Regions from separate parts of the Homo sapiens genome. Here region 1 is linked to region 2. The links come from fine-mapping of genetic effects on gene expression. Tissue or cell type: whole blood. Region 2 holds a variant in brackets; the other region holds the start of a gene. All regions are shown on one strand. Distances are from middle to middle.

Evidence for each region. PIP is the estimated chance that this variant, and not a neighbour inherited with it, causes the effect.
Region 1: PRR13 starts here. The variant in region 2 is fine-mapped to the expression of PRR13 in whole blood (TOPMed, PIP above 0.99).

What each region holds. Positions count from the first base shown.
Region 1 is chr12:53,440,428-53,443,037 of GRCh38, forward strand. It overlaps PRR13 (proline rich 13), which reads left to right and starts at 1,307. Exons shown (of 4, transcript NM_018457.4): 1 at 1,307-1,365; 2 at 2,268-2,306. The coding sequence starts at 2,288. RefSeq lists enhancers at 279-1,044, 775-864 and a silencer at 1,155-1,304.
Region 2 is chr12:53,469,503-53,472,002 of GRCh38, forward strand. It overlaps PCBP2 (poly(rC) binding protein 2), which reads left to right. Exons shown (of 15, transcript NM_031989.5): 14 at 2,136-2,305. Among named protein-coding and RNA genes, the nearest start is that of PCBP2-OT1, 6.3 kb to the left of the region's middle. The variant C/G (reference allele first, on the strand shown) is at 1,167.

The sequences.
Region 1 (2,610 bases), 29 kb before region 2:
TGCCCAGGCTGGAGTGCTATGGCGTGATCTCGGTTCACTGCAACCTCCCGGGTTCAAGCGATTCTCCTGCCTCAGCCTCTCAAGTGGCTGGGATTACAGGCACATGTCACCACGCCCGGCTAATTTTTGTATTTTTAGTAGAAACGGGGTTTTACCATATTGGCCAGGCTGGTCTCGAACTCCTGACCTTGTGATCCGCCTGCCTCGGCCTCCCAAAGTGCTGGGATTACAGGCGTGAGCCACTGCGCCCGGCCACTTGTATTTTTTTTTTTTTTTTAAAGGCTGGGTACGGTGGCTCACGCCTATAATCCCAGCACTTTGGGAGGCCGAGGCGGGCAGATCACGAAGTCAAGAGAGCGAGACCATCCTGGCCAACATGGTGAAATCCCATCTCTACTAAAAAATAGAAAAATTAGCCGCGTCTGTAGTCCCAGCTACTTCGGAGGCTGAGGCAGGATTATCGCTTGAACCCGGGAAGCGGAGGTTGCAGTGAGCCGAGGTCGCACCACTGCACTCCAGCCTCGTGACAGAGCGAGACTCCGTCTCAAAAAAAAAAAAAAAAAAAAAAAGGGAGGCCATTGTAGGGAGGCCATTGTAGCAATTCAGGGGAGAGATGAATCCAGGCGACAGATGATGGGAGGTTTGGAGCAGGGAAGACAGAGAGAAGTGGAGAGATTCCAGATATATTTGAGAGACAAAACTGATAATTTGGGGTAAGGGAGGTGAAGGAGGCAGAGGGATCACGGACGCCCTCCTTGGTTTCTGGTTTAGGCTACTTGACAGATGGCGGAGCTATGCAATTGAGAGAGGGAATCCTGGGAGAGATTATGAAATCTCTGTATCTTCCGCAAGAATGTTTGTTTGCTTCCCTTGCGAGTGTAAGACGGAGCCGGGAACATTGAGGCTTGGGGCTGGGACTCAGCAGCTCTTCTGCCCTTGCCGAGAACTCTGTCTATATCTGTATTACAACACTTACCATAGTGTATTCATTTTACAAGGTATTGCACCCAGTGAACCATGAGGTAAGAGAGCAAGGGAAGAGTTTCTTCTCGGTGTCTCTAGGACTTTGCCCAGCAGCTGGCCCCGCCCCCTCCAGCGCTCTCCGCCTAGCCCCGCCCCCAGGAGATTTCCGGCTTCTCGGTACTGGCCTAGCCGTAAAGGGCTCCGCTCCGCCCCTAGAGCAACCGTTTCCTCCTCAGTCGGACCAGAGTGATTGATTAGTTTGTTGTCTAATCATCAGTCGAGCGGCCACATAATTACCAATTAGGCAGTAGCAGAGGCGGGTGCCGAAGCACGGGGTCTGGGTGACTAGGAAGAGCCGAGACTGCGAAGGAGAACGCAGCAAGCCCAGGCGGCGGTGGAAAGGTGATGGGGTATCTGGATTCCATAGGTTTTTCCTTTTCCCCTTGCTAGGTCAAGAGTCTCTTCGCAGCTTGGGGCTAGGATCTTCATTTGCCTTTTTTCTTTTTTGGAGGAAGGGGGCTGTGTCCACATATTTAAGTATTTGAGGTTCTTGGGCAACTTCCTTCTTACTTCGCCTCGAGGCGTATCCTTTTTTTAGCCTGAGGTGGGGTCCTCCCCAGGGAGAGAGAAAGTTGTTTGAGATCCTTTCTTACTCTGTGCGTGGTTAAAGGCCTCCGTACTCAGTTCCAGGGAAAGGGAGATGAGTGATGGTGGGGCCGAGACTCGCGGGTACTGCCTACTTCCGAAGAGTTAGACGCTTCCACCTGGGTGGAGGGGCCCTGGGAACTAGATTCCTGTGTTAGGAACCAAGTAGGTATTGAGGGCGAAGAAACAAGTGGAAAGAGACATTTCTTTTCTTTTCTTTTCTTTTTGAGACGGTGTCTTGCTCCGTCGCCCAGGCTAGAGTGCAGTGGCGCGGTCTCGGCTCACTGCAACCTCTGCCTCCCGGGTTCAAGCAATTTTCCTGACTCAGCCTCCCGAATAACTGGGATTACAGGTGCCCGCCACCGCGCCCGGCTAATTTTTAGATTTTTAGTAGAGACGGGGTTTCACGATGTTGGCCAGGCTGGTCTCGAACTCTTGACCTCGTGATCCACCCGCCTCGGCCTCCCAAAGTGCTGGGATTACAGGCGTGAGCCACCGCGCCCAGCCAGAAAAGAGACATTTCTTATGTGGAAGTTGTGGTAGTTCTCCAGGTAGGAGAGCCTACTGTGGGGTGGAAGACGTTAGGGCTGGGCTCCGGTGCTAAGTCCACTTCCTACCTCTAGACCGTCATCTTTTTTGCCTCATTTCTTTCTCCTCAGGCTGGAGGACACACCTAAACATGTGGAATCCCAATGCCGGTAGGTGTTTGGGGGTTCTGTTCCACCCCTAACCCTTTTTCTGATGGGCTCTATAACAGGAAGTTTCTGTATCAGCTCCCCTACCCCCGACCTGCTGTACCCGCAAAAGCAAAGTCCTTAGTCTAGAGCTGACCAGTGCTTTTTAATTTAATTTAATTTATTTATTTTTTGAGATGGAGTCTCTGTTGCCCAGGCTCACTGCAACCTCCGCCTCCTGGGTTCAAGCGATTCTCCTGTTTCAGCCTCTGGAGTAGCTGAGATTACAGACGCATGCTATCACGCCCGGCTACTTTTTGTATTTTTA
Region 2 (2,500 bases):
CTGAGCTTGGAAGTTCGAGACCAGCCTGACTACCATGGAGGAACCCATCTCTACTAAAAATACAAAAAAAGCAAAAAGCCTGGCATGGTGTTGCATCTCTGTAATCCCAGCTATTTGGGAGGCTAAGGTAGGAGAATTGCTTGAAACCCGGGAGGCGGAGGTTGTGGTGAGCCGAGATCGCGCCATCGCACTCCAGCCTGGGCAACAAGAGCGAAACTCCATTTCAAAAAAGGAAAGAAATTCCTGTACATTTGCTGCTTTTTTTTTTTTTTTTTTTGAGACGGCATCTTGCTCTGTTTCCCAGGCTTGGCTCACTGTGACCTCCGTCTCCTGGGTTCAAGCAATTTTCCTGCCCCAGCCTCCCGAGTAGATGGGACTACAGGCATGTGCCACCATGTCCGGCTGATTTTTGTATTTTTTTTAATTAGAGATGGGGTTTCTCCATGTTGGTCAGGCTGGTCTTGAACTCCTGACCTTACGTGATCCCCCCCCTTCAGCCTCCCAAAGCGTTGGGATTACAGGTGTGAGCCACTGCGTCCAGCCTGCTTTTGTTTTTTTGTAGAAGCTAAAGCCTTATCTTTAGAAGATGTTGTGGTTTTCAGCCAGGTGCAGTGGCTCATGCATATAATCCCAGCACTTGTGGGAGGCTGAGGCAAGTGGGTCACGAGGTCAGGAGACCAGCCTGACCATAGTGGTGAAACCCTGTCTCTACTAAAAATACAAAAATTAGCCAGGTGTGCTGGCCCGCACCTGTAATCCCATTACTCAGAAGGCTGAGGCAGGAGAATCCCCTGAACCTGGGAGGCGGAGGTTGCAGTGAGCCAAGATCGTGCCACTGCACTCCAGCCTGGGCAACAGACCAAGACTCCGTCTCTCAAAAAAAAAAAAAAAAAAAAAAAAGTGTAGTGGCTTTTTTTTTTGACAAAGGGTCTCCCTCTGTTGCCCAGGCTGGAGCAGAGAGGCATGATCGTGGCTCACTGCAGCCTTGAACTTCCAGGCTTAAGAGATCCTCCCATCTCAGCCTCCTGAGTAGCTGGGACCACAGGTGCATGCCACTATCCCTGGCTAACTTTTTTTGTATTTTTTTTGTAAAGACAAGAGTTTCGCCATGAAACTCCTGAACGCAAGTGATTGGCCTGCCTCAGCCTACAGGCATGAGCCACGGT[C/G]CCCCACCATAGTGTAGTGGTTCATGAACATCAGATCTGTGCTGTCCAGGGTCATATTTTTTACAGTATTAGTGCAAATGTTAACCAGTTTTTTTTTTTTTTTTTCCACCTTTTCCCAAGGCAAAAACACCTTAGGAATTGGCCAGAATTCTTGTCGGTATAGGAGGGTGGTAATCATGGCAGGATGACTTTAAGCATATTTGCTGCCAGAAACAGAATGTATTTCTACCTTTATCTATTTCTAGCTGTCTAAATTTATTTTTGTTTTGGCTCTGCTTTGTCTTTGGAAGTAATATTCTGAGGACAGAAATAATGAAGAGCTAATACTTGGACCTAAGAGTATTATGTCTCTTGGACCTAAAAGACAGTTCTGAGTTGGCTCAGAACTGGCTGTCACTCACCATGGGTGGTCAGACTGAAAAATGGGTCAAGAGTTGAGTTTTTTGATCAAAAGTGTATGAGTAAAGGGTGTAGGATGAAATTGGGCATGGCGGTATACACCTGTAATCCCAGGTTACAGGGAGCACAGAGATACAGAGGCTGAGATTCGAAAATGGCTTAAACCAAGGAGTTTGAGACTAGCCTGAGCAACATAGCGAGACCCTCGGTTTTTTTTTTTTTTTTTAAAGGGCCAGGTTCGGTGGCTTATACCTGTAATCCCAGCACTTTGGGAGGCCAAGGTGGGTGGATCACAAGGTCAAGAGATTGAGACCATCCTGGCCAACATGGTGAAACCCCGTCTCTACTAAAAATACAAAAATTGGCTGGGCATGGTGGCATGCGCCTGTAGTCCTGCTGAGGCAGGTGAATTGCTCAAATCCAGGAGGCTGAGGTTGCACAGTGAGCCAAGATCAGGCCACTGCACTCCAGCCTGGCCACAGTCGTAGGATTTGGGGTGGGGGGGTGGGATTCTTAGACCTAGCCATGCAACTCTAATTCGGTGTGCCTTGTTTTTCTTTCTCCCTTAAGTTGATTGGCTGCATAATCGGGCGTCAAGGCGCCAAAATCAATGAGATCCGTCAGATGTCTGGGGCGCAGATCAAAATTGCGAACCCAGTGGAAGGATCTACTGATAGGCAGGTTACCATCACTGGATCTGCTGCCAGCATTAGCCTGGCTCAATATCTAATCAATGTCAGGTAAGATTGCTCTACCTTTTGTCTTATTTATGCCAACACAGTAATGTGTGTGTTGGGGAGAGCTGCAGTGTATTAAATATGGGATTACATGGGCGATGGGTAAAGATGGCCAAAAGGTTTTTTTTTTTTTTTGCTAGCTCTACTTTCTTAGAGTGTAGCAGAAAAAGTAAACTGCAGTAAGTTTTCAAGGGGTTG